Linked DNA regions of Homo sapiens: all the other regions are linked to region 6. Evidence: fine-mapped expression QTL. A gene starts in region 6. Each other region holds a variant in brackets. All regions are shown on one strand. Distances are between the middles of the regions. Region 1 has its middle 20 kb from the start of SPACA5. Region 2 has its middle 12 kb from the start of SPACA5. Region 3 overlaps SYN1 (synapsin I). Region 4 has its middle 5.5 kb from the start of SPACA5B. Region 5 overlaps PORCN (porcupine O-acyltransferase). Region 6 holds the start of ZNF630 (zinc finger protein 630). Region 7 has its middle 39 kb from the start of ZNF182.

What was found.
Region 1: its variant is fine-mapped to the expression of ZNF630 in whole blood (TOPMed, PIP 0.92).
Region 2: its variant is fine-mapped to the expression of ZNF630 in thyroid (GTEx, PIP above 0.99).
Region 3: its variant is fine-mapped to the expression of ZNF630 in whole blood (TOPMed, PIP 0.97).
Region 4: its variant is fine-mapped to the expression of ZNF630 in tibial artery (GTEx, PIP 0.98).
Region 5: its variant is fine-mapped to the expression of ZNF630 in sigmoid colon (GTEx, PIP above 0.99).
Region 7: its variant is fine-mapped to the expression of ZNF630 in whole blood (TOPMed, PIP above 0.99). The same link has a PIP of 0.9 or more in blood mononuclear cells.

What each region holds. Positions count from the first base shown.
Region 1 is chrX:48,024,747-48,028,824 of GRCh38, reverse strand. No RefSeq gene overlaps it. Among named protein-coding and RNA genes, the nearest start is that of SPACA5, 20 kb to the right of the region's middle. The variant T/C (reference allele first, on the strand shown) is at 1,928.
Region 2 is chrX:48,016,959-48,021,036 of GRCh38, reverse strand. No RefSeq gene overlaps it. Among named protein-coding and RNA genes, the nearest start is that of SPACA5, 12 kb to the right of the region's middle. The variant C/G (reference allele first, on the strand shown) is at 1,607.
Region 3 is chrX:47,573,462-47,577,539 of GRCh38, reverse strand. SYN1 (synapsin I) reads left to right here. Exons shown (of 13, transcript NM_006950.3): 6 at 39-101; 7 at 900-1,042; 8 at 1,134-1,208; 9 at 1,307-1,409; 10 at 2,266-2,412; 11 at 2,765-2,852; 12 at 2,950-3,538. Among named protein-coding and RNA genes, the nearest start is that of TIMP1, 6.9 kb to the left of the region's middle. RefSeq lists enhancers at 1-90, 1,133-1,633, 1,726-2,232, 2,233-2,740. The variant T/AT (reference allele first, on the strand shown) is at 1,885.
Region 4 is chrX:48,123,066-48,127,143 of GRCh38, reverse strand. No RefSeq gene overlaps it. Among named protein-coding and RNA genes, the nearest start is that of SPACA5B, 5.5 kb to the left of the region's middle. The variant T/A (reference allele first, on the strand shown) is at 1,760.
Region 5 is chrX:48,517,388-48,521,387 of GRCh38, reverse strand. PORCN (porcupine O-acyltransferase) reads right to left here. Exons shown (of 15, transcript NM_203475.3): 15 at 580-1,013. The coding sequence ends at 912. Among named protein-coding and RNA genes, the nearest start is that of EBP, 2.4 kb to the left of the region's middle. RefSeq lists a silencer at 680-739. The variant T/G (reference allele first, on the strand shown) is at 1,856.
Region 6 is chrX:48,069,975-48,074,052 of GRCh38, reverse strand. It overlaps ZNF630 (zinc finger protein 630), which reads left to right and starts at 2,413. Exons shown (of 5, transcript NM_001282201.2): 1 at 2,413-2,786. RefSeq lists a silencer at 2,075-2,271 and an enhancer at 2,183-2,442.
Region 7 is chrX:47,963,403-47,967,480 of GRCh38, reverse strand. No RefSeq gene overlaps it. Among named protein-coding and RNA genes, the nearest start is that of ZNF182, 39 kb to the left of the region's middle. The variant C/T (reference allele first, on the strand shown) is at 1,776.

The sequences.
Region 1 (4,078 bases), 45 kb after region 6:
TTGTCTGCCAGAGGGACCTGCTTCCATGACCACGGGATCTGTGTGGGGTGGGTCCCTGTCACTGGCAGAGATCAAGGCAGGTGTTGAAGGTGAGGCTGCCTTGGAAGCAGAGGCCTGCCATGGCTGTCCCCTCACCCTGGCTCGTATTGTGTTGTTGCACTGATTTATCAGAGCACATCCAATTTGGGATCCTCTTGTCCCTTGAGGCTCCATACAACCCGGGATGGTGAATTTTACGTGTCAACTTGCCTGGGCTACAGGGTGCCTAAACAATGGATCAAACTGTCCTGGGTGTGGCTGTGAGTGTGTTTCTGGGTGAGCTTAACCTTTCTCTGGAAGACTAAGTGAAGCTGACCTCCCTCCTAGATGTGGGGGGCCCCACCCAGCCAGTTGAAAGCCTGAGGCAAACAGGACTGCTGACCCTCCGTGAGTCAGAGAGGACTCCTCCTGCCTGAGTGCTGGGGCTGGGACATCAGTTTATTCCCGCCTTGGAGCATGCGCTAAAACGTCAGCTCTTCATTGGCCTCAAGTCTGCTGGCCGTCACACTGGACCTGCACCACCCACTCTCCTGGGTTCCCAGCTTGCCAACTACAGGTCTTGGGATCTGTGGGCCTCTGGGCCCATGTGGGCCAATTCCTTACGATAAATCCCACATATCTCCACATAGACGTAGACATATCGCCTCCTATTGGTTCTGTTGCTCTGCAGAACCCTGACTAATAGATGACCTCTTCCGTGCATCTCAGGGTTCCCGCTCAACTGGGGGCCTGGCTGGTGGTGGTTTATTTGCACTATGAGGGGGCGGCCTTGCCGGTGATGTTCCTTGTGATTTAGGCCAGGTGGGGCATTGTTTTCATAACTGCAGGCAACACTGGGCTGTGAGTTTGTCCTCCATGAGATTCTATTCCATCCAGGGCAGCCATGGCCTGGTGGATTGTTTAGCCTTAGCCATCGCTGACAGAAATCAGGACTTGTACTTGTCAGGTGCTCCCTGAGAAACTACTGTGTGGGCTCAGCACTCCATTCAGCCTCCTCAGACTATAGAGTCCTCATGCCCTGCCATCTGTCACCAGATAATCCCACTGGAATGTGCAGAGCTGATGGAGGACATCTTTGGCCTCAGCTAACGTTTTCCACCGCCATTCTGCCCAGGGGGTTGTGAGGCCTCGTGTAGGGTGGGCAGCTTTCCAAGCCACCAAAATTCACAAAAATGCAAAATCCATACTGACCAGGTGTACATGGACTGCAATGCAAAGCCTCCTGGGAGTCACTCTCAGCTTCTGTACTAACTGTGCAGAATCCTTTAGTAGGGAAGCCACTTTTCCATACCGTCCTGGGGCAGCCAAGTGCTTCACTTCAGCCCCTGTCAGGTGGAGCTTGCTGTGCTCTGTTCGATACATTGTCTGTAGCTTTTTTCTTTTCTTTTCTTTCCTTTTGACGGAGTCTCGCTCTGTCGCCCAGGCTGGAGTGCAGTGGCGTGATCTCGGCTCACTGCAAGCTCCGCCTCCCGGGTTCACGCCATTCTCCTGCCTCAGCCTCCCCGGTAGCTGGGACTATAGGCGCCTGCCACCACGCCCGGCTAATTTCTTTTTGTATTTTTAGTAGAGACGGGGTTTCATCGTGTTAGCCAGGATGGTCTCGATCTCCTGACCTCATGATCCGCCCGCCTTGGCCTCCCAAAGTGCTGGGATTACAGGCGTGAGCCAGCACGCCCGGCCATCGGTAGCTTTTTCATTTGGTTCCCTGGCTAGGTCCTTACGGACAGGCAGGGGCTCCGGGTGAGACAGAGGGTGTCTCCTCCTCCAAATGAGAAATGGCCTCTCCTTCTTGACCCTCCCCTGTTGTCTCTTCTGTTTTTTTGACTTTGCTGTTGGTGACTGGCAAAGGAGAAGGTCAAGTTCCTCACTCTCTCATGGTGGTATTGTG[T/C]CGCGTCATCCTCTAGAGGGCGCCAGTCCTCTTCTCCGGGGTCTTCTACGCCTTCTGGTCTCCTCTGATGAAAGAAGATTATATGACCACAAGGTGGCGTAGCACAATAAGGGTTATTATTATTCTATGCCCCGATCATAGACTAGAGTAGACAGCCAGGCTTAATGTGGCTACTATGAATGAGAGACCTACCCTCTGGGCCGTGTCCTGGCGAGAAGCGCGCAAGCCCAACATGGGTCCCCTGGTTTGGATTCAAGAGGACAGCCACCTCCTTTGGAGTCCTGGTTGGGACAGCAATATAAACGTCTTTAGTCACGTGAAGTAACAGTTTTGCCCCACCTCAACAAATTTGGGGTCTTGATATTGCTCCGGAAAGGAACAGAAATGATGTCATCTGTAATAGCAAATTCAAATGCGACAAGAACAGAGGCATGCTAGCTGTTTACAAAAGCGCCTCCCCCAGCTGTGCTTAGGGGATCCACGTCAGCCCGACATCGCTGCTTTATAGCCATGTTCACGTGTCATATGCGTCTCAGGGTACCCAAAATCACAGGGCCAACTCACGGGGCTCCTACCACTCTAGCCAGTCATGGGGTCAGGATAGCCTACCCTCAGTCCAGAGATGTGTACTCCCCCAACCTTTTGTGTTCAGACCCACAGGCCTTATAGCGCCCTGTGCGTGCCCCAGCATTTCCCTGCCTAGTGGGGCTCCAGGCGGGCAGGGTGACCTCCTTCCCCAGGCAGTTCCACACCTGATCCCAAAAGTCAGTTCTAATGAAGTGGATTCATTCAAATACTGGTGTTACTGCTTGGCCAGGCTAGTGAGGCACAGAGAAAACCCACAAATGTAGAGTATGTGACACAGCACAAAGCAGTCCCATGCCAAACTGATGCAATGGCATTCCAAGTTTAGAGTTCCACCGCTTGAGACCATCCAGGATTCTTTTACCAATTATTTGTCCTACTGTCTCCTATCTATTTCATGATTACCAGAAATCCTTCCCTTTTCCTCTTTGTCACTTACAGGGAGTTTGAGCGATTTAGGGCGCTGATGAAGGAAATAAATGACCACAAGGTGGCGTAGCACAATAAGGGTTATGGGGTGATTCTGTGACAGGTTTGCATGAAGTCCCTCACAGCCCGAGCCTGTACAGAGGTTATGGCCACTGGTCAACTATTCGGAAGGGCAGAACGACAAGGGAAGTGCTGGGGCATCAAGACGGGGGCTTATTTGTCTAGGTGATGTCATTCAGCAGCAAAGAGAAAATTCTCTGGGTCAGAGAACTCTGAAGGGCAGCAGCAGCAGCTTTGGGTATTTTATGGCCTGGGGCCTAACTTATCTATTCCCCAAAGATGAAAGATGTAGTACCAGGTTTTCTGGGGTATGTAAAGCAGGAAGACTCTCAGTGGCTAAAAATCTATGTGTTTGGGCTATTTATGAAATATTTGGGTATGTAAAAATTTGTTTGGTGCCAGCAAACTTTTGAGTTAAGGGGTCTCAGCCTGCAGTGAAGAAATAAACAACCTGGGGGTCAAACATAGAGGCCATCTTTGGCTTACTTATATAACAGTAAAGGCATAATTCATTCTATCTGGTCCTTAGAAATTCTGGCATAAAAGTTTAAGGGTAGAGAGTTATAGTAACAAGATAAGGATGCCTACTTTTGTCACTTCTATTAAAGATTGTACTCAAAGTTCTAGCCAGATAAATTTTCAGGCAAAAGAAAGAAATAAGAGATGCCCAAATTAGAAAGAAAGTAAAACTATTTCTATTCCCAGATGGTATGATTTATATATATATAGAAAATCCTAAATAATCTGCAAAAAAAACAACTGTTAGAACTCATAAACAAATCCTGCTAAATGGCAGGATGCAAGATCAACATACAACTATCAATTGCTTTTCTATACACTATCAATGAAAAAGCCAAAATGGAAATTAAGACAACAATTTTGTTTACGATAGGATAAAAAGAATAAAATACTGAGAAATAAAGTTAGCCAAGCAGATGCAAGACCTGTACAAAACATTGCTGAAAGAAAGTAAAGAAGGCCAGGTGTGGTGGCTCACGCCTGTAATCCCAGCACTTTGTGAGGCCGAGGCGGGTGGATAACCTGAGGTCAGGAGTTCAAGACCATCCTGGCCAACAT
Region 2 (4,078 bases), 53 kb after region 6:
AAGGAACAAAAAAGTTTTGGTGTTCTATAGCACTGCTTAATAACTATAGTTAGCAATAATTTATTGTACATTTTCAAATACCTAGAAGAGAGGATTTTGAATATTCCCAACGCAAAGAAATGATAAATATTTGAGGTGATGCACATGCTAATTACCCTGATTTGATCATTACACATTGTATGCATGTATTGAAATACCACTCTGCACCCTACAAATATGTACAATTAAAAAAATTTAATCATTAAATTAAAGAAAACCACAGAACAACTTTGGCTGCTAGCACCGACGGCTTTGGGAACGGTACTGCGCATGAGCAAGTATAGTGACTGGCAGTACCTAATTAATGCAGGATAAAGGTCGGAAAAAGGTGGCTGTCAGAGGAAGTTGTGACTGATTTTGGAAACACAAGGGGACCTTGCCTGAATAAGCATTCGGATCTTAACATCAGAGCAGGGTATGAGGCGGGGCAGAGAGTTTACATCGAACGGAAGTGAGAGGGCTGGTGGTCTGCGGACAGAGTCGTCATTTAACCTCTTTGTGCCTTAGTTTCTCTAACTGTAAAATAGGGATGATGATGTTAATGATAATAATAATAATACCTGCCTTGTATGGTTGTTGTGTAGATCAATTGAGTCAATATAAGTGTTTACAACAATGCCTAGCACATACGTAAGTCTTATATATGAGTTTAATATTATTATTATACTATTATTAATACCATAAAATGGATACATATAAACACATAAAATGGAATAGGGAAGTAGAGCAAAACCAAGGCCAGGTTGAAATGTCTATATGTAGATCATAGGATTCTACATAATTATGTTGAGCTACAGTTATTTTTCTGAGCTTCCTAGAAGCCACAACATAGAGGGGGAAAAAAGCTCATTTGCTTTATTTATCTCACCCATACAGAGAAAGTAAGCCACTTCCTCAGAAGCAAAGATTTCTTTGATAAGACAGTTCTCTGATGCGTCAGCCAAGTCCCTTATCAGCAATCTTGTGATAAATACAGAGATAGGATTGCTCTGCTGTGACTTAAAATATGTCTGCATGTCAACCAAAGGTGTCCTGCTAAAGCAGAACTAAAAATATGTGACTCTTCAGGAAATCAAAGCCATGTCTGCACAAATAGCTCTTATGTTCTGGCTCAATATATGGACCTTGATCATCAGGAAGAATCAGTAAACCTCATGCCCTTCAAATTCTTTTCTGATCTATATGTAGTTTTTCCACATCTGGGGTTTCAGAACAGCCTGAGCAACCCAAAGGTCTGCCCTTTTCCTTTTTAGGCTCAGAATTCATGATGTCCCTAAGCATGTTCAGTACTTTCCCTTCTGCCCTTTTTAAGAAAGTCTATATTATTTTGTCATTTTTTTCTCTTCCTACAGAAGTGATTTAGAAGTGGCACACCAAAAATCCAAACTCTTGAGGAATATACAATCTGAAAGGGGGAATTCACTTATAATCTCATATCACCACTCATTCCAAATAACCAATTTCTGATGAATTTGGTTAATTTCCACCTATACACCTCTCTCTCCCCCTTGTTCTTTCTCTTTATATTTACATACACATATAAATATATACGTATGTAAATGTCTTC[C/G]TTTTGCTAAAATCTGCTCATTATGTAAAACTGTTTTGCCATTCCATTTGCCCAGAATAGTATTAATAATGGTCATAGTGGTAATGATAATGATAATACAAATGATAATGATAACAAAAGTGACACAACAAGAGCCGACATGTAGTGAGCTCACACTGCACCTGACACCATACTAAGCATTATATATGCATGATCACTTTTAATTCTCACAATGACCTTAGGAAGTAGGTACCATTTTTATCTACCTCTTACAGCTAAGGAAGCTGAGTACCAGAGTGGATAAGCAGATTGCATGGGCTTGCACAGCTGCTCACTGGCATAGCTGGAATAGCCCCTACTTAATGAACACTTGTTGATGGAAGGTATTTCAGTATCAGGACATAGAGATATTTTTAAGAGATGCTTTTTTTTCTTGTATGCATGTACTACGATTTATTAATCAGCCCCATATTGAAGGACTTCTGTGTAATTTCTGCTACAGTGTGGCAGTGATCTCTCTTGTCGTCTTTTTCTTTAACTTTTATTTTAGGTTCAGGGGTACATGTGCAAGTTGGTTATATAGGTAAACTCATGTCACGGGGGTTTGTTGCACAGATTATTTCATCACCAAGGTACTAAACCCAATGGTTATTTTTTTTTTTCATCGTCTCCCTCCTCCCACCCTCCACCTTCAAGTAGGCCCCAGTGTCTGTTGTTCCTCTCTTTGTGTCCATTAGTTCTCATCATTTAGCTCCCACTTATAAGTGAGAACATGCAGTATTTAGTTTTCTGTTCCTGTGTTAGTGTGTTAAGGATAATGGCCTCCAGCTCTATTCATGTTGCTGGCCTCCAGCTCTATTCATGTTGCTGCAAAGGACATGATCTTGTTCTTTTTAAAATTGTTATTATTATTTTTTTGTAGAGACGAGGTCTACAGATGAGGTCTTGTTATGTTGTCCAGGCTGGTCTTGAACTCCTGGGCTCACATGATCCTCCCACCTTGGCCTCTCAAAGTGCTGGGATTACAGGCATGAGCCACTGCACCTGGCCTGATCTCATTCTTTTTGATGGCTGCATAGTATTCCATGGTGTATATGTACCACATTTTCTTTGTCCAGACTACCATTGATGGGCATTTAGGCTGATTCCATGTCTTTGCTATTGTGAATAGTGCTGCAGTGAACATATGCATGCATGCGTCTTTGTGGTAGAACAATTTATATTCCTTTGGCTGTATACCCAGTAATGAGATTGCTGGGTTGAATGGTAATTCTCTCTTTAGCTCTTTGAGGAATTGCCACGCTGCTTTTCACAATGGTTGAGTTAATTTACATTCCCACCAACAGTGTATAAGCATTCCCTTTTCTCTACAACCTCAGCAGTACCTGGTTTTTTTTTTATCTTGTCATCTATCTTTGTACACAGTGGTGAGCATTTCTAGAGTGTCTGGTTCAAAAGGTGGGCACGTTTTGAACTTTCATAGACATTGCCAAATTGCCTTTTGAAAAGTTAGTACAAGTTGACACCCCCCACTAATAATGAATGAAAATACCCTTTCTAATCTTCTTGTCATGGTTTTAATCCTTGCCATTTTTTTTTAAATTTTTTTAGTATTTATTGATCATTCTTGGGTGTTTCTCGGAGAGGGGGATTTGGCAGGGTCATAGGACAATAGTGGAGGGAAGGTCAGCAGATAAACATGTGAACAAAGGTCTCTGGTTTTCCTAGGCAGAGGGCCCTGCCGCCTTCCGCAGTGTTTGTGTCCCTGGGTACTTGAGATTAGGGAGTGGTGATGACTCTTAACGAGTATGCTGCCTTCAAGCATCTGTTTAACAAAGCACATCTTGCACCGCCCTTAATCCATTTAACCGTTTCTGGACATAGCACATGTTTCAGAGAGCACGGGGCTGGGGGTAAGGTTATAGATTAACAGCATCCCAAGGCAGAAGAATTTTTCTTAGTACAGAACAAAATGGAGTCTCCTATGTCTACTTCTTTCTACACAGACACAGTAACAATCTGATTTCTCTTTCTTTTCCCCACATTTCCCCCTTTTCTATTCAACAAAACCGCCATCGTCATCATGGCCCGTTCTCAATGAGCTGTTGGGTACACCTCCCAGACGGGGTGGCAGCTGGGCAGAGGGGCTCCTCACTTCCCAGATGGGGTGGCCGGGCAGAGGCGCCCCCCACCTCCCAGACGGGGCGGCGGCCTGGTGGGGGCTGCCCCCCACCTCCCTGACAGGGCTGCTGGCTGCGCAGGGGCTGACCCCCCCACCTCCTGGACAGGGCGGCTGGCTGGGCAGGGGCTGACCCCCCCACCTCCCTCCCGGACGGGGCGGCTGCCAGGCGGAGATGCTCCTCACTTCCCAGATGGGGCGGCTGCCGGGCGGAGGAGCTCCTCACTTCTCATACTGGGCGGCCAGTCAGAGACGCTCCTCACCTCCCAGACGGGGTGGCGGCGGGGCAGAGACACTCCTCAGTTCCCAGACGG
Region 3 (4,078 bases), 500 kb after region 6:
CTGCCCTGAGCATGTCTCCTCTGCCTTTTCCCCACCAGCTCAGCAGTACAACGTACCCCGTGGTTGTGAAGATGGGGCACGCACACTCTGGGATGGGCAAGGTGAGTCTCTGGCTGGGCTGTGCATAGGTAGATGTGTATTTGTGCAATGCACACCAGTCATTCTGTGTGATCGCGTCTCCTGGGGTGTCGTTATCTATCAGGTTGGTGCAAAAGTAATTGCGGGTTTTGCCAGTTCTTATGGTAAAAACCACAATTACTTTTGCACCAACCTAATAGATTTTTGTTTTCTCACATTCAGCTGACCTCATCGACCCCTTTTTCCTCCTGCATTCAGCCAATTTTGTGTGTCCTGTTATTTTGCTTGTCTCCAGCATCGTGTCTGTGTGTACATGCATGCCTGTGCCGAACACACATGATGTGGTGTGATCTTTTATGTTCCAAAGTCTTGGGGTCCTGTGTGCTTTACATCCATCTGATTTTGTCTCTGTGTACGTAGAAAGTAGACTTGTAATTTGTGTCCGAGTTTCTGTATCTTAGCATGTTGTGTGTACAATTGATTTTGTGTCTGGATGCCTATATTAGTATATTGTACATACACAGTTTTTTCACAGCTTTAGTGAGAGATAGTTCACACACCCTACAACTCACCCATTTAAAGTAGACAATCCAATACATTTTGGTATGCTCAGTGTTCTACACACCCAACTTTGTGCCTGTGTGCTCACATACAAAACAGGAGACCCATGATCGTGCCTGCTTGAGCGCCTTGGCATGTCCACCTAATTTTTGTGTACTCGCCTCACCTGTGTGTCATGTATACATGCTCCCCCAGGCACCCCCACTCCCCACAGCTGCCCTATCCTGACCAGGCCCTGATCCTTGCCCGCACTTCCACAGGTCAAGGTTGACAACCAGCATGACTTCCAGGACATCGCAAGTGTCGTGGCACTGACCAAGACGTATGCCACTGCCGAGCCCTTCATCGATGCCAAATATGACGTGCGTGTCCAGAAGATTGGGCAGAACTACAAGGCCTACATGTGAGTGGAGAGACCAAAGCCCTGGAAGGGGTCCCCTGCCTTGCCTCATGCAGCTGAGGCACCCCTGAGCTTCTGTCCCCTTGTCCCCCAGGAGGACGTCAGTGTCAGGGAACTGGAAGACCAATACTGGCTCTGCGATGCTGGAGCAAATTGCCATGTCTGACAGGTGGGCAGCCCGAACTCAGGGTGTGAGGGGAAGCGGGGGTGGGAGCACGACAGCTCAGGTGAGAGACTGACAGGCTTCCCCACCCTTTGTCTTGGCAGATACAAGCTGTGGGTGGACACGTGCTCAGAGATTTTTGGGGGACTGGACATCTGCGCAGTGGAAGCGCTACATGGCAAGGACGGAAGGGATCACATCATTGAGGTATGAGCACCCAGGGGTAGGTGGGGTAGAGGGAGGAACAGATGCCAGGCAGCAGCAGTGCAAACTGAAGCACTCCATGGCACAGAGGTCCTCAGCCAACAGCAATGTGCTTAGTACACTGTAAGGTGCCTGACGAACTTTCGAAGGGGCCATCCCTTGCAATGGCAGAACACTAGACTGAACTTGCACGTCCCTGGTGACTAGCAAAACCCTTATTAGATTGTTTAGTGCTCTGCGAATCGAGACATCTTGGTGAATGGCGAGGCACTTAGTAACCTTTAAAGTATTCTGCGAACTGGACCGACAGCAAAGCATTTTGGAAAGGACAAAGCACCTAGAAAACCGTGAAGCAGGGATCGGCAAACATTTTCTGTAAAGGAGCAGACGGTACATATTTTAGGCTTTGTAGGCCACGTAGCCTCTGCCGTAACTACTCAACTCTGCAAAAGCAGCCATAGACGATATGTTAAAAAAA[T/AT]AAGTGTGGCTGTGTTCCAATAAAACTTTGTTTATGGACATTGAAATTTAAATTTCATGCCATTTTCGCATGTTATAAAATCTTTCGATTTTTTTCAACTGTTACAAAATTTAAAGACCCATCCTTAGCTCTGGGTCATACAGAACCAGGTGGTCGGCCAGGTTGGGCCCATGGGCCCTAATTTGCTGAGCCCTGCTCTGAAGCACCTTCTAAGCTGTAAGGTACCTTGGAACAGACAAGCCTTCCTCACCGTGCACAATCAGTGCCTCAGACACTGGGGCTCAGCGGCGGCCATGCCCTTGGCCAACTGAAAGCACGGTGTTACTGCCGCCTCAGGTGCGAGGCCTGCCTCTCCCCTCACGGATCCTTTCCTTCCCCCAGGTGGTGGGTTCCTCCATGCCGCTCATTGGTGACCACCAGGATGAAGACAAACAGCTCATCGTAGAGCTCGTGGTCAACAAGATGGCTCAGGCCCTGCCCCGGCAGCGACAGCGGGATGCCTCCCCTGGCAGGGGCTCCCATGGCCAGGTCAGGCCCCTGGCGCTGAGCTAGTGGCTTGAGCTAGTGTGGGGAGGCCGGCCCTGGGTCATGCTGTGCCATGAAGCTGATAATCTGTAGGCTCACAGCATCACCTTTGCACACATGTGGCTGCGATTGCCAATTGTTTAAAACATTGATAAGCAGCTGCTGCCCTGACTTCCCTGAGCACCTCCCTGCCCCGCCCCTGGGAACAGGTCCCCCACCCCACAACCCAGAGTACCCTCAGCTCAGCCACAAGTGGGGCAACACCCAGCGCACAGGGAACCTGTGTCATCACTGGCTGATGCTCCACTGGCTGGTAACTATTTTTAACCTCTCCTGCTCCATTCCTCTGCCGCAGACTCCGTCCCCAGGGGCCCTGCCCTTGGGCCGCCAGACCTCCCAGCAGCCCGCAGGGCCCCCGGCTCAGCAGCGACCCCCACCACAGGGTAAGCGAGAGGCTGGCGGTCGCAGTCCCCTCCCTCAGCCCGCCATCTCTTACCCGCTCACTCTCACGTGTGCTCTTTCTCTCCCTCTGTCCCCCAGGCGGCCCTCCACAGCCGGGTCCAGGCCCCCAGCGCCAGGGACCCCCATTGCAGCAGCGCCCGCCCCCGCAGGGCCAGCAGCACCTTTCAGGCCTTGGACCCCCAGCTGGCAGCCCCCTGCCCCAGCGCCTTCCAAGTCCCACCTCAGCGCCCCAGCAGCCCGCGTCCCAGGCCGCGCCGCCGACCCAGGGTCAAGGCCGCCAATCCCGGCCAGTGGCGGGAGGCCCCGGGGCGCCTCCAGCAGCCCGCCCGCCCGCCTCTCCGTCTCCCCAGCGCCAGGCGGGCCCCCCACAGGCTACCCGTCAGACATCCGTCTCTGGCCCGGCTCCGCCAAAGGCCTCTGGGGCCCCACCGGGCGGGCAGCAGCGCCAGGGCCCGCCCCAGAAACCCCCAGGCCCAGCCGGCCCCACACGCCAGGCCAGCCAGGCGGGTCCCGTGCCCCGCACTGGGCCACCCACCACGCAGCAGCCTCGGCCCAGCGGCCCGGGCCCCGCTGGACGTCCCAAACCACAGCTGGCCCAGAAACCCAGCCAGGACGTGCCGCCACCCGCCACCGCCGCTGCAGGGGGACCTCCGCACCCCCAGCTCAAGTAAGGGGACCCCTACAGCAGCCTTCGCCTTGCTGCTCACAAAGCGGGCCGCTGCCCCAGTAGAGCAGCCCTAGCTCCCTTGCTCCTCAGACCCAGGTCCTATGCAGGGGTCCCACGAACTCTCTCCAGCCTGAGCCAAGCCCTTCCCCCAAGCTTTCGCTCCTCCCGGCCCACCAGAGGCTCCGCACCCCCACCCCAGGAATTTGGTGCCAGAATCCCAGAGAAACTGCACTCAGTTCGAATTCCTCCTCAAAGGCCCTGGGAAAGTTTCCTCCTCCAGGGCCTCCCAGGCACCTGGCTGACCCACCCTCTGCAACTTCCTGCCCAGCCCAGAGCCTTCCCTGCCAAACTCGCCCCCCCGCCACCAACCCATCCCTAAAACTCCTGGCCCGAGTCCTAGTCCTCCTATCATCTGGCTCTTCCCACTCCATCCTCATACTTTTCCTCCTCCTTCACATCCTTCTGGCCCATCTCAGTCTCCCCGCGAATCATCACCCATCTGCCTTTTCTGGTCCATTCCAACTCCCATCCCAGCTCAGA
Region 4 (4,078 bases), 53 kb before region 6:
GAACCAGCTTCTCCAGTGCCAATGAGCCTCATTTCTAAACAATATGTAACATTTTTCTTTCTAATAAAACTTCCAACTTCTGTTTGTTCATTGCACATACTGAAGACCACCCTAGTCTGTGTGTATGCCCTGAATTGTAATTTTGTGATTCCCAAATAGAGCATTTGATTTAGGGATTTGTCTCTATAATTTATTTTGACTTTGACACAATTAACCAATATGATGTGTTTAAAGATCGCCCCACCCCCTGACAAGGTGATTATTATACTGAATTTAAAAATTCATTCTAGACCGGGCATGGTGGCTCACATCTGTAATCCTAACACTTTGGGAAGCCTAGGTGGGCAGATCACCTGGGGTGAGGAGTTGAAGTCCAGCCTGGCTAACATGGTGAAACCCCATCTCCACAAAAAAATACAAAATTAGCTGGGCCTGGTGGCTCATGCCTGTAATCCCAGCTACTTGGGAGGCTGAGGCAGGAGAATCACTTGAACTCAGGAGACAGAGGTTGCAGTGAGCTGACATCGTGCCATTGCACTCTAGCCTGGGCAATGAGATGAAAACTCCGTCATGAAAAAAAAATCATTCTATTATTATCTTGACAATTGCTTTGCTTTGCATCTTACTATGGACTTGTTGGATATCTAGGTGGCTGTAAACTAGGCAGAGAAAGAAACAGCAGTGGAGATAATTAGAATATTGCAGTGTTGCTATAAAAGAATAACAAAAGGGGGAAATTGTAAGGGTAACTAAACATAAAATTGAGATTTTCCTGTTGCCAAAAGGGCAAGAAGAGACTTCACTTTCCTTAGAGCATTTCCTCGAAAAAATTTGTACTTGTAAATTCCTCCTTTGATATGTAAGCCTCTGGCCACCCTATAACCCAGGAATGTCTTGAACTTGAACTCCAGGCCTCAAGTGATCCTCCAGCCTCAGCCTCCAAAAGTGTTGGGATTACAAACGTGAGCCACCATGCCCGGTCCCTATAAATGTCTTTCTTTAGGGCCTTGGAGCCGTCTTTTTGAAATGTGAACATCGAGGAAGATGATGTCACTGTCTCCCTGTCACCAGGGGAGTTTAGCCTAGATGCCTTGCTCCAAGCTGTAAGCACCTGCTTGTCACAGAAATATGAGTTTTATTTTTCCTTCAGATAAAGGCAATTAACTAACACAGATGGGTACTCCAATTACTTGGTGAACTTAGGGCTTGCCTGGGAGTATTTAGTTTTCACCCTTGGCTGCTGCTGTACAACTAGGCCAATTAGCTACATACCTGGACTTTCTGGTTTCTGCTACCACCTTTTTGATTTTTTGTTTGTTTTGCTTTATTTTGTTTTTGAGATGGAGTCTTGCTCTGTCACCCAGGCTGAAGTGTCATGGTGCGATCTCAGCTCGCTGCAAGCTCTGCCTCCCAGGGTCAAGTGATTCTCCTGCCTCAGCCTCCCAAGTAGCTGAGATTATAGGCACGTGCGACCATGCCCGGCTAATTTTTGTATTTTTAGTGGAGACGGGGTTTCACCATGCTCGCCAGGCTAGTCTTGAACTTCTGACCTCATGATCCGCCCGCCTTGGCCTCTCAAAGTGCTGGGGTTACAGGCATGTGACACCACGCCTGGCCTCTGCTACCACTTTTGGATTGTATGAAACACTACACTTCAAAGTGTGGGATCTGGCTTCCCAGACAGCTGCCAAAGGGGCAGATGATGCAATCTAGAAGTGTGGGGGAGTTCGTGCCTGTGGGGTAAATTTTGACCAATAAG[T/A]AAAAGAACCAGGAGTGAGAGCCAGGTATGTAAATTCCCTCTCCTGTCCTCTCCCCATGCACCGTTCCAAGCATGGCTTCTCAGTATAGTCTGTCTAGAGGTGTCCTGTATGGCCCAAAGCCAATGGGAATTCACACACTTGCAGACAGTGTTAAGTGTGGTGGAGGACCCAGATCTGGGCAGAGGAAAATTATCCCAATAAGGAAAAGGACAATTTTGAGGATTTGGAATAGAGGGAAGGACTAGAAAAACCAGTAGTAGAATAGCTTATGGGTAATATTTTTGGAGAAAAAGGCAGTTCTGGTGATTTTTGCAGTGAACTGCTCAGCTCTGTAGAATGTATACTTCCTTTTTTTCCATCAGTCTCCCCTATGAAATCGCCCATAAATTATCCTTTTATAACTATCTACTGCCTGTGAAGTGAATTTTCTTTTTTCTTTTTCTTTTTATTTAGAGATAGAGTTTCTGTCCACCAGGCTGGAATGCAGTGGTGCCACCTTGGCTCACTGCAATCTCGGCCTCCCGAGTTCAAGTGATCCTCCCGCCTCAGCTGCCCTAGTAGCTGGGAATACAGGTGCACACCACCAATGCCCGGCTAATTTTTTATTTGTATTTTTAGTAGAGAAGGTGGTTCACCATCTTGGTCAGACTGGTCTCAAACTCCTGACCTCACGAGATCCACCTGCCTCCGACTCCCAAAGTGGTGGGATTATAGGTGTGAGCCACCACACCCAGCCTGTCACTTTTCTTTTGGAGAACAAAACAAATTGAGTCTTGTGCCAAAATGCAGGGGAAGCTGCACACAGACAGGTAACAAAATATTATATACAATAATAGATAGGTTTTCTACATACCAATATCAATCATTTAGAAAACCAAATTGAGAAAAAATACACTTATATAGTGACAAAAGTACATAAAATATCTAAAACCAGATGATTGGAGCAAGATGGCAGATAGATGCCGTGCCCCACTCAACATTCTATCGAACTGGGAGAAAATATTTTCAAGGGTCAATTCTTAACAGTAGAGGAAAATAGGAAAACATGTCAGTGGTCCACCAGAAATATTGAGGCATTCCTGGGAGATAGAGTAGATGGGGTCAGACTGATAGAGAAACCCAAGGAGACAAGACCACAGCTCAAATCACTGTAGGCGAAAGATGCTGTTTGTTTTTTGAGACGGAGACTTACTCTGTCGCCCAGGCTGGAGTGCAGTGGCGTGATCTCGGCTCACTGCACCCTCCGTCTCCCAGGTTCAAGGGATTCTCCTGCCTCAGCCCCTGCAGTAACTGGAATTCACAGGAGCCTGCCACCACGGCTGGCTAATTTTTGTATTTTTAGTAGAGACGGGGGTTTCACCCTGTTGGCCAGGCTGGTCTCAAACTCCTGATCTCAAGTGATCTGCCTGCCTCGGCCTCCCAAAGTGCTGATATTACAGCGTGGGTCACTGCGCCCGCCCAGGAGATGCTCTTTGTAACAAATCAGCTTTCACATTCCCTCTTTTGATGAAGATCTTTCTTTGAAAACCTCACTGATCAGCCATCTGAAAGTGAGGTTTCATTGTCACTCCATACCAGGATGGACCTGTGCCGGTCTATGTCAAGAGAAAGGTAAGGGGTCTATATCAGGGACATGGGCCACATTTGAGCCATAAAGAGCCAGAAGGAAAAAGAAAATCAGGCAGGTTTGTCTGGAGTTCAGTATCAAGTTTCATCGTGTTAGTCCCAGCTGTATTAGCAATCATCTTGAAGCACTAGGCCAACATTATCCTGTTGGGAGAACTGACTTAACAAATATTAGGCAACAAGAATGGAGCTCAAAAGTCATAATACAAAAATAACTAGCAATTGTTTTGTTTTATTCTATTTTATTTTATTTTTACGATTTTATTGCGATGGATTCTTGCTCTGTTGCCCAGGATGAAGTGCAGTGGCGTGATCCCAGCTCACTACAACCTACATCTCCCAGAATCAAGTGATTCTCCTGCCTCAGCCTCCCAACTAGCTGGGATTACAGGTGCTCACCACCGCACCAAGCTAATTTTTGTATTTTCAGTAGAGAGGGGGTTTCACCATGTTAGCCAGGCTGATCTCAAACTCATGACCTCAAGTGATCTGCCCGCCTTGGAATCCCAATGTGCTGGGATTACAGGCATGAGCCACCGCACCTAGCACTTTGGGAGGCTGAGGCAGGAGAATTGCCTGGACCGAGTAGATAGAGACCAGCCTGGGCAACATAGTGGGATCCTGTGTCTACAGAAAATACAAAAACTAGCTAGATGTGGTGGTGTGTGCCTGTAGCTACAGCTAGTTCGGAA
Region 5 (4,000 bases), 450 kb before region 6:
CAGAACTCCTCAGTCCTAATAGCAGCGGTCATTCTCTCTTCTCCCGACCTCAAGTCAGAAGAACTAGTTAGAACCCAGGCCTCTCAGTCCTACTGACCAATTGGCATGAAGACCCTCAATCTCCATATGCCAGTTCTAAAAAGCCAATCAAACGCCTAACCACCAGTGGGCCCCCAGATGGAGCAATCAATCAGAATCCAGACCCATCCCAGACCTCCCATCCAATTAGAACCCACAACCCTCAGTCCTAAGGATAAATAGGCACCAACCCTTCATCTCTCTTGCTTTCTCTCCTCTGTGTCCCACTCAGAGCAACCAATCAGAATGGGGATCCTTCAGTTTTCCAGCCAATCAGGCCTCCCCCACATCCAACTATGCAATCTGTCCCTGCCCTGATCAAACCAAGCAGGACCAGGATCCTGCCATCTTCAGGCTCATCATCTAATCAATCATAAACTAACCATGAACCAATCACAGTCTGCTCTCTCTTCATGGTTTCCAGCTTCCAAACCTTTATCCATGCTGTGCTCCCTTCCTCACTCATTCCTATTCCCCTCTGAGCAGTGAAGAAGAAGCCTATTGAATATTTCCTACTTTTATTTGACAATAACAAATTGTATATAAAAAGGAAGAAGGAAGGCGGGGAGGCCCTGGATCTCCCCTTCTCTGTTTCCCCAAGCATCCCCCTCTAGGCCCCAGCAGGCACCACCCCCTTCCTGCCTTGTGGTGGGGTGGGGATTGACAGGCATGAAAATGGTGTGATTTTGTGTGTGTGTGTGTGTGTGTGTGTTGAGGTGTTGGGGGTCAAGGATGGAGGGGGTCAAGGAGTAGAGAGAGGGCCTTCCCTCATCCCCCATCAGTGGCACCCTGAGAGGGGTCTTAAGAGGGTTATGAGGGTCCACAGATGTGCCTCAGCCTATGAGACGGTAGAAGATCCAGCATCCAAAAGTGACCCAGTGACTGGCCCAGCTGAGCTCTGACCACTTGTGGACAGTGTATGCCATGCCGTAGCCCTGTGGGAGAGAAAGAGGTGATGGTCCCACTTAGCAAGGACAAAGAAGTTCTTAGGAAAACCCATCCTTTGCCCAAGGACATTTCTGTGACTGCTCTAGGCGAGGCCCCGCAGAAGGGCCTAGGTACATATGAAAGGTGACCAGATATAGTTTTTGTCTTCTTCTTTAAAAATCATTTTAAAAACAAAGTGATCCCATTCTCTGACCTGTTATCTCCCTAATATATAAAGAGCTCCTAAAAATTAATTTTTTGGAAAGAAAAATTGCCAGAGAAGGTGAATAGGTCATTCCAGTAAAGGAAAAACAAATGGCTCTTAAACATATGAAAAGATGCTCAGCCTCATTAATAATCTTCCTCATTTTATTTATTTTCTTTTTGAGACAGGCTCTCATTCTGTCACCCAGGCTTGAGTGCAGTGGCACGATCTGAGCTCACTGCAACCTCTACCTCCCAGGTTCAAGAGATTCTCCTGCCTCAGCCTCCTGAGTAGCTGGGATTACAGATGCTGCACCACCATGCCCAGCTAATTTTTGTACTTTTAGTAGAGATGGGGTTTCACCATGTTGGTCAGGCTGGTCTCGAACTCCTGACCTCAAGTGATCTGCCTGCCTGGGCGTCCCAAAGTGCTGGGATTACAGGCATGAGCCACCCCGCCCGGCCATCTTCCTCTTTATTGAAGTGGCAAACATATCCAGGAAGTCTGAGAGGCACTCTGTACTGGTGGGGCAGCAGGCACATTCAGGCATTGCTGGTGGGAGAGCACAAAAGTACTACTCCATTGAGACTATCAACAGATCCTACAGATCTGTCCACACCTGTGTGGATCCACTTGGGTACAGAG[T/G]TCCTGCTGCAACATCACTTGCAATAGGAAAGGACTAGAAATTACCTGATGTCCACAAATAAGAGAAAAAATAAACTGTGTCACTTCCTCATAGTGGAAAAAATGAATGAGGACACTATATCCTGATGTGGAAGATTTTCAAAAATTGCAGAACAGTATCATTCATGTGTTATCTTTAGGGTAAAAACTGGCAAGGGGGTAGAATTAAAATATATTTTTATATTTGTTTGATATGCTTAAATTTTGGAAAGATATTTTAATAAAAGGATAAAAGTGGGCTCAGTGCGGTGGCTCACGCCTGCAATCTCAGCACTTTGGGAGGCTGAGGTGAGTGGATTACCTGAGGTCAGGAGTTTGAGACCAGCCTGGCTAACATGGTGAAACCCCGTCTCACCATGTAACCTGTAAGAGGGTAGGGGGCAGAGGGTGGGAGCAAATCTTTTCTCTAAATATCTTGAATACTGTTTGGTTTTTGAAGCACATGATAGGCATTCACTATTTTAAAATATTTTAATGAAAACAAAACAAAAACTTTATTTAAAAAGAAGCAAAAAGCCAGGTGTGGTGGCATGCATCTCTAGTCCCAGCTACTTGGGAGGCTGAGGTGGGTGGACTGCTCGAGCCTGGGAGTTTGAGGCTGCAGTGAGCTATGATTGTGCCACTGCACTTTAGCCTGGGTAACAGAGTGAGACCGTGTCTCAAAAAAAAAAAAGAAAAGCAAATCCCAGATTTTGCACACTTAACCTGAATTAAAAACTTTTTAATATCAAAAAACACAAAGTTTTGTTTTTGACTGAAACCTAACTAAAAGAGAAGCAAAAACCTGGATTCTGCAAGAGCCATATGAATAAATGTTATTTTTAAATTGTTCTTAATTTAAAAAGGAGTAAAATCTGGTATTTGCATACTCAACATGAACAAAAATAGTGCATACATTTTAACGAAAAATTTTAAAGTGCAGAATCCAGGGTTTGTACACTCAACCTAAGTAAAATAAAATATATATTTTTTTGGCCGGGCGTGGTGGCTCACGCCTGTAATCCCAACACTTTGGGAGGCTGAGGCGGGTGGATCACCTGAGGCCTGGAGTTCAAGACCAGCCTGGCCAACATGACGAAATCCCATCTCTACTAAAAGTACAAAAATTAGCCCAGCATGGTGGTGCGTGCCTGTAATCCCAGCTACTCAGGAGGCTGAGGCAGGAGAATTGCTTGAACCCAGGAGGCGGAGGTTGCAGTGAGCTGAGATCGCACCATTGCACTCCAGCCTGGGCAACAAGAGCAAGACTCCGTCTAAAAATATATATATATATTTAAATTAAATAAAACAGGGTGCTCATGCCTGTTATCCTAGCACTTTAGGAGGTTGAGGCAAGGGGATTGCTTGAGCCTAGGAGTTCAAGACCAGCCTGGGCAACATAGGGAGACCCTGTCTCTACAAAAAAAATTAAAAAAACATTAGCCGGGCTTAGTGTCATGCACCTGTAGTCCCAGCTACTCAGGAGGTTGAGGCAGAAGGATGGCTTGAGCCCAGGAATGTGAGGCTGCAGTGGGCCGTGATCACACCACTGCACTTTAGCCTGGGTGACAGACCTTGTCTCAAAAAAAAAAAAAAAATTAAGAAGTCTTGCAAATTCTACCTAAACAATAATGAAGTGAAATAATTAACACAAGTAAAACCTGGATTTTCCACTCCATCTCTATAAAGTGATTTTTTTTTTTGAGAGAGTCTCGCTCTGTTGCCCAGGCTGGAGTGCAGTGGCATGGGCTCACTGTGACCTCCACCTCCTGGGTTCAAGTGATTCTCCTGCCTTAGCCTCCCGAGTAGCTGGAATTACAGGTGCATGCTATCACGCCTGGCTAATTTTTTATATTTTTGGTAGAGACGGGGTTTCGCCAGGTTGGCCAGGCTGGTCTTGAACTCCTGACCTCAAGTGATCTGCCCACCTTGGCCTCCCAAAGTGCTGGGATTGTAGGCGTGAGCCAGCATGCCCAGCCTAAAAGTTATTTTATAAGTAAAATAAATAAACATATTTTGCACACTTCACCCAAATAAAAGACCTAACAGTGTGACTCAAGCAGAGGGACTATGGGAAAGGACCGAGGAGCACTGGCTGCCCAGGCGAAGCAGCACAGTCTGAGGAGC
Region 6 (4,078 bases):
TGATGATGGAAGCAGGTTACCGTCAGAGAGCAATGTGAAGATGCTACACTGTCAGCTTTGAAGATGGAGGAAGGGACCATGAGTCAAGGAATACAGGTGACTTCTAGCAGAAGCTAGGTAAAGCAAATAAACAGAGTTTCTCCTAAGCCTCTGTAGGGAGTGCCCAGTGAAACCCATATCATATTTCTGACATGTAGGACTGTAAGATAATAAATTTGTGTTGTTTTGAGCAAGTAAGTCTGTGATAATTTGCTATAGCAACAACAGGAAATGAATACAGGCATCTTTGAAATATTCCATCATTGATGGCCCGTCTGGTCTATACTCAAACCATGTCCTTCTTAACTCTTCCACCATCCCTATCCCTCTGACCTCACCTCAAACCCCAGCTGTTGTTAGCAATTCCACCATCAAAGTCTCTTATCTGTGCTCTCCAACCTGGGCTTCTATTAACTCTTCCAACCTAAATCAACCCTTAATTTTACCTTGAACTGGGGAATCTGTTATCCATTCCACTATTAATGGGTTTGGATCTAGAGAGAGAATTCAGGGCTTTGAGGGTGGAAAATTAATAATCCTGGGTCTATGTGTTAAGCTTGAGTTTCTGTTCACTTTTCCATCACCAGGGCAATTTACATGTGAATCTTTTTGCATGTCTGTTAACTCTTTCCCCATTACTGCCCCTCAGTTCTTGCTCACTGCAACCTCCACCTCCCAGGTTCTAGTGATTCTCATGCTTCGGCCACCCAAGCAGCTGGAATTACAGGCATGCACCACCACGTCTGGGTAATTTTCGTATTTTTAGTAGAGACAGGTTTTCGCCAAGTTGGCTATGCTGAGTCCTGGCTTCAAGTGATCTGCCTGCCTCCACCTCCCAAAATGCTGGGATTATAGGAGTGAGCCACTACGCTCTGCATCCCTCAGATCTTTACACTGACTGCAGGCCTCAGTTGAGTCCTCTCCATCTATGATCCTTTGGTATGTACAGAAAATCAAGGCTGTACTAACTTTTTAGCTACTTGTGCCCCTTCTCCTGTATCCACCAACCCCAATCCTCAGTTAACATTTATTTTTATAGAGATGGAGTCTCACTATGTTGCCCAGACTGGTCTTGATCTCCTGGGCTCACATGATCCTCCCGCCTCAGCCTCCCAAAGTCCTGGGATTACAGGTGTCAGCCACTGTGCCCGGCCCTCAGTTAACATTTTTTTCTTATTTTTATTTTTTGAGACAGAGTTTTGTCTCTCCCCCAGGTTGGAGTGCAGTGTCACAGTCTTGGCCCACTGCAACCTCCACCTCCCAGGTTCAAGCGATTCTCATGCCTCAGCCTCCCAAGCAGCTGAGACTACAGGCATGTGCCACCACATCTGGCTAAATTTTGTATTTTTAGTAGAGATAGGGTTTTGCCATGTTGGCCAGGCTGGTCTCTAACTCCTGGCCTCAAGTGATCCTCCCGCCTTGGCCTCCCAAAGTTCTGAGATTGCAAGTGTTAGCCACTGTGCCCAGCCCTCAGTTAACATTTTTATCATGAATGCCATTTGGTTTGACTTTGAAGTCAGACCTTGATTAATTCTTCCACCATCATTACCCCTTTGGTATAGGCTGTGAATTCCGGGGCTCTGTTAACCACATCACGTGACTTTAATGGGTCTCTGGTCTTGGCTCAGATTTGGGTCTAAGTTAACCTTCCATTTAAGGCCTCTCTGAAATAACTTTGGAATTGGGTTACTATTGCACCACCAGTGCCCCTCTGATTTGATCTTCAAGCAGGATATTTGTTAATGTTTTCTCCATCCATACACCCTGATAGAGGTCTTGAATCCTAGGACTTTCTTAACTATTGTAACCATCAGAGTTCCCGTTTTGTATCGAACATGAACCTTTGTTAACTCTGCAATCCTGTTCCGGGCTGACTTCCAATCCAGCCCTTTGTTAAGTCGTCTAAAACCAATGTCCCTTAGGTTTTACCTCGAACCTCTGACTCTATGAACTCTTTTAGTTTTGATACGGGCTGCAAAAGGCCATATAAGCCTACTTGAACTAGGGCAGGCAGAAGTCCAGGCTGTAAATGACAGGTGAAGGTGGGCCCTTCCGTGTTCAAAGGAGCCAATGGAGGACCGGTGGGCAGTGAGTGACAGATGGGGGCGGGTCCTGACGCCAAGCAGGAACAATAGGAAGGCGGCAGGGCGCCGAGGCCAGGTGGGGAGAAGTGGGCGGGTATGTGTGAGCCCCCTGAAAGGCTGCATGATGTCAAAGGTCTCTTCCCTTTCTCCAGACGTTTTAGGAATTCGCTTCTGCGGAGGAATCTCCCGGGGGGTGCTCTGTCCAGCCTTCCCACTTTCCCCGTTTCCCACCCTGCCATGTCGCCACGCCTTTGCTCAGGCCGTGCCTCTTCTGGTGGCCGGGAACGCCCACTCACCCGGACAAGTCGCGGCCCTTCCAAGCCTCACACTGCTTTCGTAGGATCAATTCCGAATACCCAAACTCGGAGATATCACGAGGACTCCCCCGGGCCCCCAAACGCACCTCTCCTCTGGCTGGAATGGGAGCCTCCAGAAGCAGTGCGAGACCACGGCCAGCGACAGAGGTCCTGGCGCTGGCGGAATGACGCCATTTTTGTTACTGGTAGAGCTCGGCTTCGTGGCTGTTTCGGAGCCACCGAAAGATAAGCTCCCTCGTCACCCTGACATCTCTCCGGGAAGACTGGAAGGGAAATGGCCTTTCGGGGGATGTTGAACGCATTTGGGCAGGCGGGGAGCCAAGCCCGGCTTGAGAGCAGAGCCGGGGTGAGGGGCCTGGCTGAGTGCTGCGGGTCTATGTGATCAGTGACGGATGGAGACAAGTGGAGGGCCTGAGGAGGGGATTGAGTGACGTGGAGAACAGTGATAGGGGAGCCTGTGGGACCAGGGGTAACAGTATGTGGGTTATGCAAATGGGAGTTTGTGGGGTGATGGGGGATCTGTGCGGTGTTTGATGATGTCTGTAAGGGTGAGTGATGGGGCTTCTATGGGATGGGTGAAGGGAGTCTGGGGTGAGTGATGGGTGGTCTGTAGGGTGAGGGATGCTGATCCGTGGGGTGAGTGGATAGGGGGATCTGGGGTGAGGGATGAGGGTCTATGAGGACAAGAATGGGAGTGTGTGTGGGGTCAGTGTTGACATTCTGTGGGGTCCATGATGGGTGGCTTTTTCAGATCAATCATATGTGCATGAATGAACAAAAATCTCTGCTCCTGTGGTGTCCACATTCCGATGGAGAAGTCCAACTTGGTGGTTTGATTTGTATTTCCCTCATGACCAATAAGTTTGAGCACATTTTCTTATATGGATTCATCACTTGGAGATCTTCTTTTGTGAGGGGCCTGTCTTTTGTTCATTTTTCTGTTGGACTCTCTGCCCTTTTCTTAATGATTTGTAGGAATTTTTTTTTTTTTTTTTTTTTTTAGACGAAGTCTCACTCTGTCGCCCAGGCTGGAGTGCAGTGGAGAAATCATGGTTCACTGCAACCTCCACCTCCTGGGTTCTAGCAATTATCCTACCTCAGCCTCCCGAGTAGCTGGAATTACAGGCGCCTGCCACCACGCCTGGCTGATTTTTTTGTATTTGTAGTAGAGACAGGGTTTCGCCATGTTGGCCAGGCTGGTCCCGAACTCTTGACCTCAGGTGATACACCCACCTCGGCCTCCCAAAGTGCTGGGATTACAGGTGTGAGCCACCGTGCCCGGCCAGGAATTGTTTTTATATATTCTGATACCACTCCTTTAGTAGTGGTATGTGTTTTGCAAATATCTCCTTCCAGCTTTTGGCTTCTCTTTTCATTTTATGGCTTTAAATATGAAGATTTTCAGTTAATTTTGAACTGTAAAGCACATTCTTCAGTTAAAAAGCAGACAATATCGGCTGGGCGTGGTGGCTCACACCTATAATCCCAGCACTTTGGGAGGCCGAGGCGGCCGGATCACGAGGTCAGGAAATCGAGACCATCCTGGCTAACACGGTGAAACCCCGTCTCTACTAAAATTACAAAAAAATTAGCTGGGCGTGGTGGCGGGCTCCTGTAGTCCCAGCTACTGGGGAGGCT
Region 7 (4,078 bases), 110 kb after region 6:
TACAGGCATTGGGTAAACATTTCCATTTCAAAAGAGAGAAAGCAGCCAAAAAAAGGGGGCAACAGGCTCCACACAAGTCCGAAACCCAGCAAGACAGACATTAAACCTTAAAGCTCCAAAATAACCTTCTTTGACTTCATGTCCTGCATCCAGGGCACATTTGTACAACAGGTGGGCTCCCAAGGCCTTGGGCAACTCTGCATCTGTGGCTTGGCTGCGCTCACAGGTTGGAGTTAAGTGCCTTCAGGCTCAGGGTGCAAGCCACTGGTAGTTCTACCACTCTTGGGTCTGGGGGGCAGTGGCCCCATTCCTACAGCTCCACTAGGCAGTGTCCCAGTGGGGACTCTGCATGGGGGCTACAGCCCCATATTTCCCCTTGGCACTGCGCTAGTAGAGTCTCTCTGTGGGAGTTCTACCTTTGTGGAAGGCTTCTGCCTGGCCATACAGGCTTTCCAATACATCCTCTGAGATCTGGCTGGAAGCTGCCAAGCCTCCTCCATTCTTGGATTTTGTGCACCTACAGGCTTAACACTATGGAGAAGCCACCAAGGCTATGGCTTGTGCCTTCTAGAATGGTGGCAAGAGCAGTGTCTGGGGCCCTTTGAGCCAAGGCTAGAGCTGGAGCAGCGGGGATGTGAGGAACAGCCTCCTGAGGTGGTGCAGGACATTGGTGCCCCGGCCCTGGCCCATGAAACAATTCTTTCCTCCTAGCCCTCTGGGCTTGTGATGAGAGGGACTGTCCCGAAGGTTTCTGAAATGCTTTTGAGGCCTTTCCCCCATTGTCTTGGCTATTGGCACTTGGCTCCTTTTCAGTCATGCTAATCTCTCTAGCAAGCGGGTGCTCCAAAGCCCACTTGTATTCCTCTCTTGAAAATGCTCTTTCCTTCTCTACCACATGGCCAGGCTGCAAATTTTCCAAGTTTATTTTTGTTGTTGTCTGTTTGTTTGTTTTTGAGATGGAGTCTTGCTCTGTCACCCAGGCTGGAGTGCAATGGTGCGATCTTGGCTCACTGCAACCTCTGCCTCCCAGGTTCAAGTGATTCTCCTGCCTCAGCCTCCCAAATAGCTGGGATTACAGGCACCCACCACCACACCCGGCTAATTTTGGTATTTTTAGTAGAGACGGGGTTTTGCCATGTTAGCCAGGCTGGTCTCGAACTCCTGACCTCAGGTGATCTGCCCATCTCGGCCTCCCAAAGTGCTGGGATTACAGGCATGAGCCACCACGCCCAGCCAAATTTTCCAAGTTTTTATGCTCTGCTTCCTTTTTAGATATGAGTTCCAACTTTTAAGTCATTTCTTTGCTCCCATATCTATCCATATGCCTCTTTTTGAATGCTTTGCTGCTTAGAAATTTCTTCTGGAGGAGGTGGAGGTTGCAGTGAGCCAAGATCATGTCACTGCACTCCAGCCTGGGCAACAGAGTGAGACTCTGTCTCAAAAAAAAAAAAAAAACTAACTAAAGATCACATATGACTGAGAAAATATTTGTCATCTCCTTCGATCATATTATCATATTATTTGCTCTTTTTTTTTTTTTTTTTTTTTACTTTTAACTGAAAAGTAAACTTTAATGTTGAAAATGCAAACTTGGGGAAGACAGAAAAGATCACACACAAGGCTGTCACTTCACACTTGGAAGGTTGCACAGCAGCCGGGCAGAGGCGCGCCTCACTTCCCAGACAGTGGGCAGCTGGGCAGAGGCGCTCCACACTTCCCAGACGGGGCGGCAGGCTGGGCAGAGGCGCTCCTCACTTCCCAGACAGGGCGGCAGC[C/T]GGGCAGAGGCGCTCCTCACTTGCCAGATGGTGGGCAGCCAGCCAGAGGGGCACCTCACTTCCCAGACGGGGTGGCCAGGCAGAGGCGCTCCTCACTTCCCAGTTGGGTGGCTGGGCAGAGGCACTCCTCACTTCCCAGAGAGTTGGGCGGCTGGACAGAGGCGCTCCTCATTTGCCAGACGGTAGGCAGCTGGGCAGAGGCGCCCCTCACTTCCCAGACAGTTGGGCGGCTAGGCAGCATATTATTTGTTCTTATCCACAAACCAGTAATATGTCTTCTTTACTCTCTTGACAATAAAAGAATCACATTCAAAAAAAAAATTTCTTCTGCTGGATACTCTAGGTCATCAGTCTTAAGTTCAACCTTCCATAAATCCCTAGGGCATGGACACAATGCAGCCAAATTCTTTGCTACAGCATAACAAGGGTGACCTTTGCTCCAGCTCCCAATAAATTCCTAATTTCCATCTGAGACTTCGTCAGCCTGGCCTTCACTGTCCATTTCTATCAGCATTTTTTTTCGTTGTCAAGACTCAACACAATCTATCAGCATTTTGGTCACATTCATTTAACCAGTCTCTAACGTTAAAGTTCCAAGTTTTCCCTCATCTTCCTGTCTTCTTCTGAGCCCTCCAAACTCTTCCAACCTCTGCCCGTTACCCGGTTCCAAAGCTGCTTCCACATTTTCAAGTATCTTTATAGCAATGCCCCACTTCTCAATACCAATTTTCTGTTAGTCCATTTTTGCATTGCTGTAAAGGAATACCTGAGACTCAAGTAATTTATGAAGAAAAGAGGTTTATTTGGTTTGTGGTTCTGCAGGCTGTACATGAAGAATAGTGCCAGCATCTGCTTCTGGTGAGGTCCTGGGGAAGCTTACAATCATAATGGAAGGTAAAGGGGAGCCAGCATGTCACATGGTGAGAGAGGGAGCAAGAGAGAGGGAGGGGAGAGGTGCCAGACTCTTTTATTTTTTTATTTCAATAGCTTTTGGGGTACAAGTGTTTTTTTGTTACATGAATGAATTTTATAGTGGTGAATTCTGAGATTTTAGTGCACCCATCACCCAAGTAGCAAATATTGTACCTACTGTGTAGTTTCTTTTTATCCTTGGCCCCTCTTCCCTCTCCCCCTTCTGAGTCTCTAAAGTCTATTATATCACTCTGTATGCCAGCCTCTTTTAAACAGCCAGATCTCACATGAACTCATAGAGTGAGAACTCAATCATTACCACAAGCATGGTACCAAGCCACTCATGAGGGATGTGCCCCCATGATGCAAACACCTCCCACTAGGCCCTACCTCCAACATCAAGGATCACATTTCAACATGAGATTTGAAGGGGATAGACATCTAAATCATATCAGACACTAACCTCATCATGGGGATTCCACTCTTGTGACCTCATCTAATCCTAACTACTTCCCAAAGGCCCCTCTTCCTAATACCATCCCATTAAGGTTAACATTAAGGGTTTTGACATATGAATTGGGCAGGGAAAGGGGACACAAACATGTGATCTGCACACTACCCAAGTACTTTTCTCTATACCTTTTGGTTTGTTTGAAATATTTCATAATTTTGAAAAATAACTTTAAAAATAAAAAGTTAGGCCAGGCATGGTGGCCACACCTATAATCTCAGCACTTTAGGAGGCTGAGGCAGGTAGATTGCTTGAGCTCAGATGTTCGAGACCAGCCTGGGCAACATGGCGAAACCCCATCTCTACAAAAAAATATAAAAGTCAGCCAGGCATGATGTTGCATGCCTGTAGTCCCAGCTACTCGGAAGGCTGAGGTGGGAGAATTGCTTGAGCCCAGGAAGTTGAGGCTGCAATGAGCTGATATTGTGTCACTGCACTCCAGCCTGGGTGACAGGGCAAGACCCCGTCTCAAAAAAAATTAGGAAAATGCTAACAAAATGAAAAATGGACATAAAATTTGAAAACAAAAACATTAAGTGGGACAAAGAAGGATATTTTAATAATAATAAAAGGTAACATTCATCAGAAGACATGGTGGTAAGGCATGTTTATGTACCTAACGACATAGATTTAAAGTCAGTGATGAACCCTCAATTACAGAGACAGAAATTATCACACATCTCTTAAACAGACAAAAAATAATGACTCATTTGAATAGCACAATTATTAAGCTTGATCTATGTCTGATACATGGATATGGGTATACATACACATATTTAAATCCAATGAGGAATACACAGGAAACATTTACAAACATAGATGACTCAGAGAATCCCAACAAATCATAGAGACACTTTGTTTAGGCACAATGTGATAAAAT